Linked DNA regions of Homo sapiens. The protein of the gene in region 2 purifies or fractionates together with the protein of the main gene of each other region. This does not show direct contact. Each region holds a gene or a part of one and is shown on either strand. Other genes may lie near its edges. The genes, in order: KCTD8 and CEP162.

Region 1 (9,028 bases), on a different chromosome or scaffold from region 2:
TTAAGGTTATTTTCTGCATCTAAAACATAAGTGGACAAACAAGGTCACCCAGTAACTTTGCTCTTATGAGTAACACCGATAATCTTTTTAAATAGAAACTTGCCAAATAAGATAAACACATTTGGTCATCAACTAAACTGAATACGATGGAAATACATTTTACAGTGTGTTTTCATTCACCAAATATTAAAATGAATCCCATTCAAAATAATGTGTAAAAATATAATGAAAGCTGTAAAAAATAAAATAAATATATGTATTCTAGTACTCAAGACAAATTTTACATCCAACATTTAAAATGACAACTCCACCTGGTTGATCAACGACTAGCTTACCACTTCAAAAGAACAATATTTAATCTGGAATTGCATATTTTCTCCCAAAATAGGTTGCCTCCTTAGATTTCTGGGACTTTTTATGAATGAATTTCAGAGGTCATTAATAATATGAGTACTCTGAAAGTAGTTATTCATAATATGAATATTTAACACTTCTGTAGCTCTAGAAGTGAAACATCCTGAATTTCAAATATCTCTCAAATTTATCCCATTAGCTAAATTAACTAAGTTTCCAGTTTCAATATACTAAGGGCACTTTTTTCCTAATGTAGAGATAACCTGTATTATCTCTTCATAATCAAAGTAATGATCATTTTCATGTCCACATCTTTCTAGAGGAATAAGAAAAACCAAAACCAAGTAAGATTTTCAAAATTTCAGAAAACTGTGCAGAACATTCATGCTTGTATCTTCTCTAACAAAAAACACTAACTACAAGAAAGGCAAAAGTTCATTTTACCTTATCTTCTGAAATGTTTGGAAATCTACATTGAAATGACTTAAATGGTTTAAAATCTAAAAAGTTGTTGACAAAGGTCACAATGATAAGAAATAAAATGGTGCTAAAATACTTAATTACTCAATATATATTTAAGAGATGTCAATTTTATACAAGCAATAAAATATCTTCCCTTGGGTGGCTTTTCTGACCATTAATCTTTTTATTGTGTAACAAGTAATACTTTGATATAATTAAGACAGTTTTTTAGCTTCCAATTCAGTGGACAGACACTTCATTTGCTTCTCTGTTGAAACCGTTGTCTCAAGAAATCCAGCATTACTTTAAAAAGTAGTCTAACTCTGAGAACCTGTGTGCTGTGGTTTGTCACCCAACTTCCAAGGTTACCAGAATATACAAACACTAAGCCAACCTTCCAGTTAAGCTTGCACCTGTGCAAGGAGAGTTCCCTTCCATTTCTCCAGTCAAAATAAAGTCCAGAAAATTGTTCAGTTCCCAATTACTGTAGTGACTAAATTACCAAAATAAATAAATTCAATTTAAGCTGGTCTATTTCCATCACAGGATTTCAAGGCTATTCTCCCTATGCTACAGGCAAGTTTTAACTTGTGTCTGGCCAAAGGAAAAACCTTTGCCAAATAATGTTCCTGCTGCCATCCCAGCTGGCTTTTCGTTTGTCCAAATCGCTCTCTAGTCGTTGTCTTTTCACTTCATAAACGCCACTGAGAATTGTGCCCACCACAGCCCCACCCCACTCCCAATCCCACTCCCAATCCCCAGGTTCAGATTATGGTATTTGGTATAGTTCTTGAACTCCACATAGCCCGCTCCGGAAGCGCACTGCAAAACGCACCCCAGATGCTTTCCCAAATCTATTCCTTCATTCTCTCATTTCAGAAAATCGCTCTATTTATTCACCCTGAGAAAGTGGACTCAACCCCCGCTTTCGCGCTGGAGAAGGAAACACAATCATTCTCTCTTTCTCTTCCCCTCCCTCCCCAACACCTTCCCTCCCTCCTCCCTTGCCCCTCCTAATCTCCAACCCTAAGAGCAGCACTCAGACATGCAAACTTTCTAATTCCTTCCACCCTCCCCTGTCCCAAACACTGGGCAATTAGACTGGAGATAACAGACGCAGGGAAATCTGGGTTTCCATCTGTCAAGGAGTCCCCTTTCCCCACACCCGCTCTCATGCCCCCGCCCCCTCGAGGGGCTCTGGGGGCACCTTTATCGCTTCTCCCCTGCCCTCTAGAAAACCACCCGTAACTGGAGGCTCCCGCGCGGCAGCTGCACCAACAGCAGGTGATCCAGGTGGTGCGAGGCGATGCCTTGTTATGGCATCCTGCCCTCTGCAGGGACACCACTGAGGGCCACATGAAATGACCCCCAGCAGTCCTGCAAAAGCAAAGGGGTGGAGGAGGGTCTATGCACCCTGCCCTGTGCCCCAGTCTCTCCCACCCTGTCCTCCGCAACCGAGGAGACCCTGGCATCTGGGAGCGGGCTGGGCCGAGAAGGCAAGATCAATAAAGTTCAGCAAGTAGACAGCTGGGAGCTGGGTGCTACTGAGTTCTAGAAAGGGGGAGTAGAGACGGAAATATCCGAATCGGTGAAATGTAAATCGTGTCTACTGCATAAGGGAATCGTGCAGGGAGAGCCGCTCTCTATAAGGAGTTAACCAGCGCCTGCCCCGGACACCCCCGCGGGGCCTCCAGCGGGGCTCAAACTGGCGGCGGCTCAGCAGGGGGCGAGGGGTGCTGGGAAACGCCGGGGCTGCGAACTTACGGAAGAAAATGTACTCGGTGTAGCTGCTCCAGATCTTGTCGTCGCGGTACTGGTTGACGAAGGCGGCGGTGCCCGAGGAGTTACACGCCACCATGTGGAAGCCGGCCTCGGACAGGCGATCAAAGGCCTGCTCCAAGTAGGTGAACTTGAGGTAGAAGCGGGACGTGTACTTCTCCGGCTGCCGGTCGGGGTCGCGGCTCTCGTTGAGCGTGTCCCCGAAGACCTCCTTGGCCAGCGCGATGCGCCCGCACACCATGATGCGCGCCACACGCCGGAATTTGGCGTCGGCCTGGTTGTCGCGCACGGTGGTGTAGGAGCCCCGGTAGCCCAGCGTGAGGAAGCCCGAGCGCTTGTCCTGCGCGCCGCCGCCGCCGCCACCACCGTGCGCTCCCGGGCCCGAGGGCACGGCGGCCGCCGCCCCGCGCAGCAGCAGCGCGTCGCTGCTACCCTGCGAGACGTTGTCCTCCAGGTCGCTCTGGCAGCCCTCGTCGTTGAGAGAGTTCTGCTTGGTGACCTTGGGCGACAGCAGCTTGACCAAGTCGGTGAGCTGGAAATACTCGGCCTCGCGCAGCAGCCGCTCCTTCTCGGGGAAGTGCTCCGGCAGCGCGAGTTGCTTGTCCCGCAGATAATCCAGCACGTACCTGAAAAGGAAGCCGTCCCGGTCGATGAAGAAGCGCGCCCGGCTGTCCCTGGGCAGCTCGCCCCGGCGCCGGGCGCCGCCACGGGGACTAGAGGGCGAGAACATGCTGGCCAAAGTACTGTCCGGGACGCTGAGCAGCGTCGAGTGCTTGGTCACATAAACCTGGCCGCCTACGTTCAGCTCCACTACTTCAGGGAAGGGCGAGGGTGCGCAGGGCCCCGGGGCGGCGGCGGCCGACGCGCCGGGCGAGCTGGACGAGGAAACCATCTCGCTAATGGGCAGGATGGTGCTGCCGCCGCTGCCCGTGTCCTTCAGAGCCATAGTCCCCCCGCCGCCGGCCCAGTGACCCGAGAGAGCTGCACTTTCTCGTTCCCGGAGCCCGCGCCCCAGCCCTCCGCGTGCTCCTGGCGCTCTGCGCCCTCGGACTGGGCGGCGCGTTCCTCCGACCGGGGCGGCCCCGCTCAGGGTTCGGGGCAGCGGCGGCGTCGGCGGCGCCCGAGCTCCATCGGAGGAGAGACGCGCGAGAGAGGAGCTCCGCCGGTGCGGCGGCGGCAATGGAGAGGCAAGAAGGAGCTGCTGCTCCTTTGGGGCGAGGGCGGGGAAGTGTGAGAGAGACTTGCGAGAGGCTCTAGGGCTGCTGCTCGGCTCTCCGTGGGGAGGGCGGGAGGAGGGGCCGAAGCAAAGAAAACTCGCCGCCCCGGCAGCTTGCAAGCGTGCCGCGAGGCCGGAGCGCCGACGGTGGCGCTAACTACTCCTGGCAGCACGGGAGGAGGCACTGACGTCAAGCCCCGGACTGGGACCCGAGCCTCAGCTGTCATTTAAAGAGATAGGCTGCAGCCGCGGCTCCCGGGCTCCGACGCTAGGGGGCGGGGCCGAGAGCCGAGCCTGCAAGAGGTGCAGCTCCCCGACCCGCGGGGACAGGCAGGCAGGGAGCTCCTAAAGCAAAAGCGAGAAAAAGGGACAGCGCTCTCATTCCTTCATTTCACTCCCTCCTTGGGTCTGTGCCACCCCCTTTCCTCCCTCCTTTCCTTCTTCTCTTCCTTCCTTCCTTGCCTCCCTCCCCAGTAAAACTAGTTTTTTGCACTTTCATTAAGGTAAGGAGTGGAGGAGCGGAGAGGGGAGAATAAGGTTTTGATTATAGCAAAGATGCCAGGCTCCTAATCTGAAATCACCACAAATGTTGGCTTGCCAGCAGTGATTGCAAAAAGATTACGTGAGGGTGGGAAGGTACATCTCTTGTAGTGGCTTTATGATACAGTTTAAGTGAAGGGCTAAATGCGCGTACCTCTCTTGGAATCAAATTTCACGACTGCGTGCACTGAATATCCTTGAATAATTTTTAAAACTTTGTAATCTGCTTTCAGTTCACAATAATAAAGGAGTGTATGTAACAACTGTTTCCTTCCGACATTTTTACAATTTTTAGTTTTAAATTAGATGCTTAATAAATGTTTATAGAGGGAGAGACGGAGCCCGAGAGGAAATTTACTCGATTTGTTCATTCTTTCTAATCCTGATCAGTCTCATTAATCTCTCCATTTCCCTTTCAGCTCCATCAAACAAGAGAAGTGGCTGATATTTTTATTAGTCTTCTAACCCCAAGAGTAAGGTCACAAATAAAAATTATATGAATTTAAGCTCACCTTAATTTCCATGTGTACATAGTACAGGTACAGTCTGCAAAATGAGCATTACTTGTGATAAAGACTGAAAATAGGAAAGCAAATGAGAAATATTTCTTCTACCCTGGGGCATACATCTGTGTTCAGAAACATAAAGAATCATTGATTTATGAAGTACAAAAGAGAAAAGGGTGTATTGTGGCACAAAGTAGTTTGCTTCAATTATCATAACAATATTACAGATGAACTTTATCCATTAGCAGTCGATATACAGATTTTAATATTTTTTAAAAAGTTAAATGCCTACTAACAACTCCTTTTCTTCAAACCACCCAAAAAAGTATCAAATTTCAGATACGGTTGTAAATTAATACATTATTTTTGGAACATTACAAATTATGTTTAAATCATTGATCCTTATAAGCTGCATCCATAGACAATGTTATACCAATTTTGAAGTTGCATTATATGAAGCAGAGAGAACCTAATGGACCAATGAAAGAACAGAATATATTTGCCAAAGGACTGAGACTTAAAACGGGGGTTTCGGTATGCATCATCATGCAATCCTTTTACTCAAAACTATTGTGTCCTGCCAAATTTATAAACTGATTGATCAAATTAACTAATTTAATTGATTTAGCCTTCATTTAAAAGTTAAAACCAAGTATTAAAATAACAGAAAAAATACACTATTTTCTGCCTCATTAGAAGAATATTCGGGATTTAAAGTAATCGTTCCTGGATAAATGAATTAATAGATGCTTTATAATCTTCATAGATGAATATATAATAATGCCTCAAACCACTACTAGTGAAGCCCATTTATCATAAGGTAAGTGTCCCTAATGATAAGTAAGGTGCAGACTGTAGAACTGTAATGAAGTGGATATATAATAAATATGCATGTGAATATGAAGTCGCTAATATCAGGTTGAAATCCATCTTTACTTTTGAATTAAATAAATTATGTCTATAAGATAAAGTGATCAAAAATTTATACTCTAAATGAATCATCTCAAAAATTCACAATGAATTGTATTGTTTGATATATTCCTTTTTAAAATGATTCCTTCAACTTGATTAAACATTTTTTCTTAATTTCTTCTCTCTTCACACTCCTATTACTCTCCTCTGTCTCCCAGTTATACCCTTCAACCAAACTCAGACTGAACAAATTGCAGATCTACAATGTTTCTATCTTTCCTCTTCCTTCTGCTAGGAATGCCCTTCCTCTTCCACCAGATCCCTAACCCATTCTCCCTGCTTACCAATTTCCTCCAGCTCTTAGTTTAAATATCACTTTCTCTAGAAATCTTTACATTCACTTACCCAACCTAGTGAAGCGTCTTCCTAAGATGTTCCCATAAGATCCCATGTTTATACATGGGCAAGGTTTATCACACTGATGTGTAACTGTGTCCCGCCACGTTGTAAAAATGGCATGCGACCGTATGCACTATTATATCCCCATGGAGGTAGGCTATAGAGGTAGCCCATAAAGAGATAGCCAATTTATATGTGTTGAAAGCTCACTGAATAGAACTGTATTAATATCATAAATAGATGACAATGCATCACCTATGTGCTGGGTACCAGGCTAAATAATGAGATTGCAGGATTGAGTTAGAACTGTTCTTCACAATTAAAATCAGGTAAAGTGAGAACCAGAATCTAATCAAAATAAACTCAGAAATAAAAGAGAAGAGAAAGCAAGAAAGAGACACAATTGAAGCAATCCATTTGGTGAACTGAGCAATCAACACCAAATACCGTAATCAGAACCATTTTGCTCTAAGCCACAGACACCATTAATGTTCCTTAGACCAATTTGATCACATATGTGGGTCCTTTAAGATCTTCTGTTGCTACGCAAAGACAAGGCAGCAAGCTTCTCTGAATAGAAATTACACTAGAACAGTTCCCATACCCAGCACATTTTAAAATAACACGGTCAAACCTGAGTGTCTCTAAAAGCACAGCAAACAAACCAAAAAGGATATATTGAATCCAGATTTTAACACATAAATAATTTAAAATTTATAATAACAAATATTTCTTCACCAGGTAGAGAGTTACTTAAAGGCAGAAAATGTATCTTCTTCTAAAGGGGAGGAAGAACACAAATGATAACGACATTTAGAATCAAATAGAACTAGGTTAAAATCTAACTTTGTCTCTTACTAGCTTTGCAATTTCAGCAAGTTACTCCGAACCTCAGTTTCTTCATGGGCACCATGGAAATAACAAAGACCTCAGCTCATCACATCAATGATGATTTGTAACAAATCCACCTAAGTTTGATGGAGTTCAATATATTTATAATGTGTATTTCACAGTATGGTTCTCAGGGATGGGAACAGAGTTACATCTTGACTAGATAGATCCAAGATCCAGAAGCAGGTAACTGATTTTAGTCGCTCTACCTACCTTCCTTCCAGTTGTCTCACCCCTAAGGCCTGGGGTTACACAGCCCTGTCATTATGAACATCCCCATACCATCATGTCCTTCCCTGTCTGTATCTATTGTTGTCTCCTTCATTGCATGTTATCATCCTAGACACTGATATAATTTCGTTGATTTAATTTACCTTGGCCCTGTTCTTTTTTTTTTTCTTTTAACTTTGTTCAGTCTTTTGACCATGGTCTAATTACCCCTTTTAGCTTGCTTCTGTCCAAGGCCAACTGTGCTTCTAATTTTCAGGAAACCATCTGGTGTCTGTTAATCTAGTTCAGGACATTTGAAAGTTTTACCAAAATAAATAAATAATAAACACAAACAAACAAAAAACCCTCAAGTATCTCATGTAATTCTAAGTAAAAAGCCTGACATTCTTTCCAGTACCAGAGCCTTTGCAATTTTTAGAGCAGTGCTGTCTAATACAAATATAGGAACCATATATCTCATTTTTAATTTCTTACAGCCACATTAAAAAATAAACATGAAATTACTTTAATATTATTGTTTATTTAGCCCAGTATGTCCAAAATCTCATTTCAAAATGTATTAATGACATAATTTACATTTTGTTCCACACAAAGTCTTGAAAATATGGTATGTATTTAGCTCTTCTGACACATCTAAACAGTTATAACTTGGACTAGCCATATCTCATATGCTCAATAGTCGCATGTGCCCAGTGGCTTCTAAACTGAACAGCATAGCTCTAGAGCATTTGTGACTTTAAAGCTTGTCTGTGTTTTGAGGATTAGGTAAGAAAGTATAACTTTTAAAAGTTTTTAATTACAAGATTGTAATGAGAGGAGGCTGGAATTCAGTACTTGCGTAGAGTCATTTAACACGTGAAATGGGAACCATAAAACATCTCTCTGGCCAAAAAAAAAACAAGCAAAAATAACAAACAGAAAAAAAGAGAGAGTGAGAGAGAGAGAGGGAGGAGAAAATAGAAAGTAATCACGAAAGAACTTAGATATTCCTTACACAACAGGCACACCCCCATAATGCATGTATCACTCTTGTGAACAGCAGGCCAGGCCAGGGTTTATTTTGTGGGTATATGGCTTTTAGCAAAGTTAGAAATAAAGAGCTTCCTATCAGAGCAAACAAAGCAGAGTTAGCCTTTGTAGGAATAAGACTGAAGATAAGATGGGAAAGATCTTCTGCAAATTCAGCAATTGCTGCTGAATCTAGGGAAAGTTGGAAAGTAGAGTATGCATTGCCCCCAAACCTCATATGTTAATTGTAAGAGTGTCAATGGTTCTATAAAATGAAAAACTTTTGCAAATCAGATATTTAGGAAACTCAGAGTATCTATGCTAATGAACACATTAAATAACATATTCCAGCAACTTCAATATCTTAATATAATTCAATATGAGTTCTGATTCTATATTTAAAATTGTATAGAAATACTACTGAAGTTTAGGGTAACACGTGGTTAAACTCTATAAAATTAGATACCTAAAGAAATTGATGAAAGCTTGTATAGATTATGATCCAGTATAGCTAAGCATTTAATATAATACCGGCACATAAACTGATCAACAGGTACTTGTCAAAATTATTTGCAAACTATTTTCATATTAACTAATATGATATATAAGTCATGTTTTCAGAAGTAGCTATTTAATTTAATATGCTGTGGGTGGGGGAATGTTTATGTTGGGAAGGTGGTTAGCAATAGATGGTCTAGTCTCTCATTGTGCACAACTGGTTGCCTTCTTA
Region 2 (8,869 bases):
CCAGAAGGCAGAGTTGCAGTCAGCCAAGATTGCACCACAGCACTCCAGCCTGGGCAACAGAGCAAGACTCAGTCTCAAGAAAAAAAAAAAAGAAATTGGAACTCTGATAAACTAATACACTACTAGTGGAAATGTAAAATAACACAGTCATTTTAGAAAATAGGCAAACACACAGCTACCATATGATACAGCAATTTCACTCTTTGGCATATACACAAGAGGAACAAAAACACATCCACACAAAAACTTGTACATGATTGTTCATGGCAGCATTGTTTGTAACTGCCAAAAAGTGGAAAGAACCCAGATGTCCGTCAACTGACAGGTGGAAAAACAAAATGTGGTACATCTACACAATGAAATATTACTTATCCATAAAAAGAAATGAAGTGTTAATACATACTACGACATGGATGAACCTTGAAAACATCATGCTAAGTACAAGAAACCAGACCCAAAGGGCCCCATAATATATAATACAATTTCTATGAAATGTCTGTAACAGGCAAACATTTAGAGACAGAAGTCAGCTTAGTAGTTGCCTAAGGCTAGGGAAGGGGGAACAAGGAGATGGAGTAACTGCTAACAGATATGGGATTTCTTTCTGGGGTGATAAAAATTCCTATAATTGATTGTGGTGATGGTTACATAACTCTGAAACCACAGAACTGCACATTTAAAATGGGTGAATTAAATGGTATGTGAATTATGTCTCAATAAAGCTATTTTTAAAAAGCTGGTTACCACTACTGTCCTAAAAAATAAAGATATATAAACTATGTCTTTGAATAAATTGTTTGAACAATAATTTATCAAAGTGAGAAAAGTTAGCATGACTCTAAAATCATGACTTTCACAGTAAAAAAAAAATGACACATTGCAACTGAGGATGGATATAAGAGGAAGAGAGACACAGACAGAAGGGTGGGGGAAGGAGAGTGTTGGAGAATGTGTGTGCTGGAAGGGTGGTAAATGAGGGAAGAATAAAAACATCTTCTAAAAGGCCTGTTCTGCTATCTTTTACAATAAAAATCATTCCTATAAATTTAATTTTCAAAATGTGTCTGTATTTGAAATTTTAAAAAATCAACTTTTCAAATGGTAAATGAAACTTATTCCAAGTGCCTATTACATCTTGACAATTGGTAGATGCTTTTTTAAATCCTTAAAACAATTCTACAAAGAAGGCATTATTTTTCCATGAGACGGATAATGAAGTTTTTTTGTACTACATTAAACTCCCTTTTTTAACAAGAATGTATAACGTATAATAGCTTAAAATGTGACTCTCTTGAATGCTCTACAAGGCCCCTCCATTTATATAAATAGAGTTTTATGCATCGCTTAATTATGGGGATATGTTCTGAGAAATGGGATTTCATCATAGGAGCATCATAGAGTATATTTACACAAACCTAGATGGCTCCATGGTATAGCCTACTCCACACCTAGGCTATATGGTATAGCTTATTGCTCCTAGGTTACAAAGCTGTTCAGCATGTACTGTACTGAATCCTGCAGGCAACTGTAACACAATGGCAAGCATTTCTGTATCTAAACATAGAAAAGTAAACATATGGTACAAAAGATTAAAAAGATACACCTTTATAGGGCAGCCCCATTATAATCTTACGGAACCATTGTTGTATATGTGGTCTGTTGCTGACCAAACCATCTTTATGAGGTGCATGACTGTACACAGAACGTGGTATAACCATTTAATATACTCATTCAAATATTTATTAAGTATTTATTAGGTACTGTAGACATAGTAGTGAACATGTTGATATATAATAGCAATGAACGTAGAGTCATCACATTACAGACCATACATTCTTATAATGGGAAGCAGAAAACAGACCCATACAAGAAAAATAATTAATGTGCTAAGTGCTATAAAAAGAATTAAATACATACCAGATTAAGAAGTGACTTTGTGTTTACCTTTTACTGGATAAACAGAAGAAGCCTCTCTGAAGTGGTGATATTTAAGTTAAGATTTTCACCAGCCAGGTAAAGAGTAAGGGAGGAGCATTATTGGCAGAGGGAACAGTGAGTGCAAAGCTCCTAAGGTGAAATGAGCTTGCAATGTCTGGGAAAGAAAAAAGGCCACTGTGGAATAAATAAAGTGGGTGAAAGAGGGATATGAAGGCAGTGAGATATGTAAGAGTGAAATCATGAAAGGCTTTAAAACCATGGTAAGGAGGAGTTGTTTGTTTTTTTTTTTCTACATGTGATGGGAGACCAATAGAGTCTTTTACTGGGGAGGAACAGAGTCTGACTGCAGTGTGGTGAAAGGAATGCTGGACCATGAGTTGAGAACTGCTGCCATAGCCCAGTTGAGATGATGGCACTGAACTAGCAGTGGCAGAAAAGGGACAGGGCTAGAGGGATGATGGGAATTCAGAGTTTGGTGATGGACTAACTGTATCTTCGAGATGACAGAATTGAAGGATGAGTCTTTTGAGACAAATTTGACAATATAGCTTTTAAAAATATAAACTTACCTCTTTCATAAACTGTTCAAACTCTTCATCTAGCTCTTCTTGGGAACAGTTAGCCATAGTCAACAATTTTGACCTCCCAAAGTAAACATTCTAAAGTACCTCAAACATTGGAAACACTAAATGACAAGAGACATAAACATCTTTTGAGGAAATCCATCAGATCATGAACACGACCAGACTTAAACTTCGGACATTTGTTATGATTCAGTATATATGCACAATTTTTTTTAACCAGTAAGAGCTGGTCAAGAGATTCCTAATTCATTAAGCAAACTGATTTGGAAAAGCAGCTTTGACAGGATGTCTTGTACTCAACGTTCAGAATTATGTTTTCATCTGTTAACATCCAATTGTTAAAGAGTGGTCTCTACAATATTTCCCAAACCTATGTTTGTGTGCATGTGTTAATTAGTACCTCTCAAACACAAACCAGGTCCTCACAGGGAATCTTAAAAACTGTAAGTTAGCAAATCCAAAGGACTGTTTCTTTCTTGCAAAGCACACGACAGTTTGTGCTGCCTTATCACTCGGCTCGTTATTTTACCAATCCATAGTAATAGTTTCGTAAAGCAGACTGCATAGTTTCGTAAAGCAGACTGTATCCAGATACGGGGATGTTTCAAAATATACACAAATAGAATTTAGTAAGAATTAGTAATTTAGTCAAAATACTTAAAGAATACTTAAAGTTAATGGAGTACACAAATCAGTACTATGTTTCTTTTGAAGCGAGGGAAGACCGACAAAAATTATGTGCTGAACACAAGCAGAATCCAGTGATTTGCAACGGAAAGCGTTCCCCTAGACACCTAATGAACCCAACCTTGGGTCGACCCCCAGCTCCTGAACTCCCTAGAGCAGCTCAAATCCCAGCTTTCTTCTGTAGAGATGGGGGAGGGGAAGAGGGCTTGCAGACCCGGACAATACCCTCCCCATCGTGCAGAGTAACACCTCTTCCCCTCATTTGCACTTTCGATCAGTTCAGGGTAAGTGCGGTTAAGGTCTTGGCCTGAATAGCTTGGTCAGGGGTGAGCTCCACTAAAAGCTTCTCAAGCCTGGCTGCGACCCCGTCCCCAGAAGCGCGGGTTCGGGAATTGGAGGGAAGACAAAGACGCATTTGCCGTGGGCTCCGGGCGGAGAAGGGGAATGACCTGGAAAATTAAAGCCCTTCGCTCGAGTATGAAGCACGGCCTCGACCAGGGCGATTTGGGTGGGAAACCAGCGTTCACACCTTACCACCTACCTCTGCCTCTGAATTCCGCGCTTTCCCGGAAGGTCTGTGCGGGTCCACCAGTTGTCAGGGTAACAGACTTCAGCTGCCGGGTTCTGGAGTCACATGACCCGGGCTGGTCACGTGGGCCGTGGGTTTCCCAATGCCTTTACAAGCGAAGGTCGGAATAACCACGGCTGAGAAAGACACTCTAGTGGCTAAACCTTCGCTGCTGCAGTAAAATGCCTTTCCTTCCCTGGCTTTCTCTACGTTCCTTAGAAAAGGGGACAGCGGCAAACCGGTTACTGGAGAAGCGAGACGGAGGCTTCCAGCAGGCTTGGAGGGCGCGGTGGTTGTAGGCCAGCCCGTGGCTTTCTGGGAAATGTAGTTTAGCTCCCCTGGTCCTTGTGTTTCCGCACTCCGCATCGTCGCCTCCCGCCTTCCCCACACTTGTCATTCGAGCGCTCTGTTTTTCCAAGGGGCAATTTTGAAGAGATTGAATTTCTTGGATTTCTTTGGCCTGCAAAGACCTGTGTAGGCATTGTGAGAGAAACACAAACCTGTGAGGAAAAAAACTGTCGTTTAGATGGGGACTCTGTTCCACCACCTAGTGGGCAAGAAATCGAAAATACGCAAACAGCAAGATTCTTATTAAGTTATTGCTCCTCCCGCTACCCCTACTTTTCAAAACTGCATTCTTTACTGGCATTTCACAATTACTGACTTGGATTTTGTTTTCTATTTCTTTTCTTTTTTTCAAAGCATGCAACATTAGCTGGAGTTTCAGAGGACAACATTTAGCATAGTGTAAGTAAAATCTACAACAGCTGCAGGTTTTGCTGATGGTAGACTTAGTTCAGGACCTCATCTTTAGCTAGAACTGTTTATTCATCAAGTCTTTCTTGCAATACAAATATGTACAAACCAGGAGCTGTGGACTATGATGCAAATATGAATAATAAAAGAAATATCTTAAGCTACCATTTATTGAGAAGTTGACTTCCTGCCACCTTCTATCAAAGACTTACCTTCCCACATATGATCTAGAGCCTTTACCCATTCTTCTTCTCACTGATCTTGTTCCACTGGTCATTTCCCTTAATCCTGTATCTTCGACTTCTGGCTGGCTGTGGGATTTTTCCTAACAGCATTTGAACATGCCTTGAGATCCCCACCTAAAACATCACTTCTGACACATTCTCTTCATGCTATTATTTCCCAGTGGTTGAAATGATCTGTCTCCTCACCTTACTTGCCAATCTTTTCTGAGGAATTATTTCCACTTTACCTCCCTTTTGTCAGACCTTTTAATCCTGTCTCTGTGTGTGTAAGTGTACATATATGACAGCGCTTTATTTGATCTCCCAATACTATTTGATACACTTGTCTCCTCTCTTTCTTGGTTTTTCTTTCACATTTATAGCCTCCCCTCAAGGGTTTTCACTGTCTCTGTCTATCCTAGCTGACCTCTAAATGTTAGAATTTCTTTTCTTTTCTTCTTTTTCTTTTTTTCTTTTCTTTCTTTCTTTTTTTTTAATTTCTATTTTTTTGAGACGGAGTCTTGCTCTGTCACCCAGGCTGGAGTACAATAGTGCGATCTCGGCTCACTGCAACCTCCACCTCCTGGGTTCAACTGATTCTCCTGCCTCAGCCTCCCGAGTAACTGGGATTACAGGTGCCCACCACCACACCTGGCTAATTTTGTGTTTTTAGTAGAGACAGAGTTTCACCATGTTAGTCAGGCTAGTCTTGAACTCCTGATCTGCCCACCTTGGCCTCCCAAAGTGTTGGGATTACAGGTGTGAGCCACCGCGCCTGGCCAATGTTAGAATTTCTTAGGGCTTATTTCTGGACTCTTATTCTGTCACACTTCATGGTACTTCCATACACCTACTCATTCAAGACAGAAATCTGGGAGTTCCCTCTCTCCCATATTTTATTCGTCAAGACTTGTTGGTGCTACCTCCAAAATGTGTCTCTATTCTGTTCATTTTACATCTTAATTACTAATGATAGAGGCATCTTTTCCTCTTGTCTGAGCTGCTTCATTAGCCTTCTAACAAGTTTCTCTATTTCTACTCCTATCCTCGTCTAACCCATTGTCTACACAATAGAAAATGTGATAATTTGAAAATGTAAATCAGGTTACTCCATTGCTGAAAATCCTACAATGATTTCTCTCTGTATTTGTACTAAAATCCAAATATCTACAAGGACTTGCATGGTATGGTCGGCACTATTCTCTTCTACAGCCTCCTCTCACCCCCACTCACCAAGGCATGCAGAATTATTTGCAGCTCTGGTACAGAGTTCAGTCCTATTGAGGTTAGAATTGGAGCTTTGGTATAAGGAGTGGAAGATGAATGTTACTGTGTCTAAAGAGTGAATAATCATTTTGTCTCTATGCGTAAACCTACAAAACTTATGCTTATAGGATCCAAGAGTTTGTTATGCTGAATTGTGGAAGGGATGTCACTAAATTTTTGGTACTGAATTGAATTGTTATACATTTTTCAAAATAATAGTCATTAAAAGAATGATTAATATTTTTTGAGAGTTTACACTGTGCTGTATACTATTGTATTCATTTTTATAAAATGAATTGACCTCATGACCCATAATTTAAAACACCATTTAATACTAGCTCTCATCATAAATATATATCTAAAATGTCAATGAAATGGCTACTTTAGTAGTTAAATCACTCTGGGTAGCATCAAAGTTTCCTACTTTTAGATTCTCCATAATTGTTACAGGTTTCTCAATCATTATGTGTTTCTTTTTGTGTTTCCTAGAATGATATGAAATTTGATTTATATTTGGTGTTTATCCAGCTCTCTAGTGAGGTTCTAGAGGGGGAGACTGTACCTCAAGCCTTATATTGCCTTTTCTCGTAGCAAACAGTACAGTGTGAGAACTCGGTCAACACTGACAGTATAGTTGTAGCCAAGACCTGCAACGGTAATGGGGTGTAAACTTAGCACATTGTGGGAGTGGATTAAGGAGAAGAACTGAATCAGATACAGTTACATAATAGTTCCAGTTGCTTGCTTCTTTACCTCTAATTTTCAGAAGTGGGTATTCTCTTCACTTATGTGGATAATGAGGAAGACACTGAAGGAATCGTATCATTCTAGTCATAAGAAAATTAATGGTTTTTTTGTTATTGCCATCGTTATTTTGTTTGTCAAAGTCATTGTTGACTTCTGCTCATTTGTCCACATCTGACTGCTTTTGACTACTTAAAATTTTTCTTAATTGTTTTGTATATGAAATGTAGTAGTCAAAGTTTAAGCTATTGTTATAAGTTGTTCCCAAGAAAAAGAATAATAATTCATAGTAGAATATTGAGAAATTGTACAGTCATATTTACAAGTATTTAAATGTTTCTAAAATACAGGCAGATGCTCTTTCCCTAGGGTATGCAGAGCTGCCCATTTACAATTATATCATGAACTCATGGATGGTGATTTAGGTCATGAAATTGTTTTTAAAATAATTCTTTAATAATCCAGTAAATGGCCACTGAGGATGTCAGCAATTTGGCTATGCTTCTAAATAATACAGTTATCAACATGGTTTTATAATTATTATGGAAATGTAAAAACACAAAAATTGACGAATCAAGGAAAAACTCAGCCTATGAAGACCCTGTGAGGAGGAAAAGACAAACTAAAGACTAGGATGAAATATTTGCAAACCACATATCTGACAAAGGGCTGCTATCTAGAACATATAAAGAACACTAGCAAAATAGCAAAAGCAAAATACACAATTAGAAAATGGACAAAAGACACGAGTGGACATTTCACCAAAGGGGACATGAGAAAGGTATATGAAAATGGTGAATAAGCACATGAAAAGATGCTCAGCATCACCAAGATATTCCACATCATTAGGGAAATGCAAATTAGAACCACAATGAACTATCAACTGGGTGAGTGTAGATATGAAGAGGTAGCATAGGAAATCTTTGTAGTGATGGAATTGTTCTGTATCCTGATACAGTAGCAGTTATAACAAGCTACATGTTGATAAGATTGCATACAAATGCACACACACACCACACATATACAAGTGAGTGCATATAAAATTGGTGAAATCTAAATGACGCCTGTCCCATTTTCCCCAACTTTCTGTCAATCCGTTACTAGATAGAATAAGATCATAGGTTATATATATATGTTTCAGAATCCTTTCTTCTAGGAAAATCTTGTGAGAAGCACAATGTATAAAACAAAGCAGAGTTGCAATGGTTGGGAGGCAGGTGAAGGATGGTTTTGAGCTCTCTTTCTATGCTTTTTTATTGGTCTTGAAGGGACCTCCCTTGAGCTCCAGAGTGCTGTCTAAAACTGATATTTTAGATTATAATTCCGTAACCCAGATAATCACAAAATTTCTACATCTATTAATATATAATCAATGTAATACATACATGAATTCCCCAGCAAGTTAGAGAAATAAGTATAAATATGTGTTTTACGCATATATACAAAATTGTGATTTTTAGCACATCTAAAATATGGATTAAGCTCATCTGATTATTGACAAATTATTAGACTGGGTCTATGTGATAATGTTAGTCTAAAATTAAGTTTTTTTGTATTCACATACCTTAGATGATGGGGAGGTGATTGGATATAAGAAGAAAATATTAGAATTTATTTTCAATTTATTTTTATCTCAAACTTAATAAATTAAAGTTTGACTAATATTGCGGACTAATTGCTATAAATATATTAATTTATAAATAAATATTCATAAAGTGAGTGTGTTTGCCTCCAAATAGTTTTACTGACAGGGCTATATGGAACATTACTGATTTACTGAATGGAACTCTTAGAACACAGAATTACTTTATTAAAATATGTCGATAAGGTAGAAATTTGAAGTTGTGCTTATTATTTCTTAAGCTAAATGTTTTGGATTACAAATATCACTATTTTGTTGTATTAAGAAACCTAATGAAGAAAATGATTATAATATCTTTTAGCCAGAAACAAGTATTTTTCCAGTCACAATCTGTAGTCTTAAGCATAAATAGGCCATATAGAGTCATTTTCTAACCGATGGTCCTTTATTAGTTCCAATTTTGATGGTTGATACTCTACTTTTCTGTGTGCTCCATTGGACTGTCTTATATGTCACATTC

What was found.
Region 1: the proteins of CEP162 (region 2) and KCTD8 purify together in Homo sapiens (affinity purification with mass spectrometry; 2 studies listed by BioGRID and IntAct, with this or other methods). This does not show direct contact.

Annotation. Positions count from the first base shown.
Region 1 is NC_000004.12:44,444,983-44,454,010, forward strand, and holds the start of KCTD8 (BTB/POZ domain-containing protein KCTD8), read right to left. Parts: upstream 3,828-9,028; 5' UTR 3,542-3,827; coding exon 2,581-3,541; intron 1-2,580. UniProt on the Homo sapiens protein: Auxiliary subunit of GABA-B receptors that determine the pharmacology and kinetics of the receptor response. Increases agonist potency and markedly alter the G-protein signaling of the receptors by accelerating onset and promoting desensitization.
Region 2 is NC_000006.12:84,223,830-84,232,698, forward strand, and holds the start of CEP162 (centrosomal protein of 162 kDa), read right to left. Parts: upstream 3,815-8,869; 5' UTR 3,751-3,814; intron 2,624-3,750; 5' UTR 2,565-2,623; coding exon 2,508-2,564; intron 1-2,507. UniProt on the Homo sapiens protein: Required to promote assembly of the transition zone in primary cilia. Acts by specifically recognizing and binding the axonemal microtubule.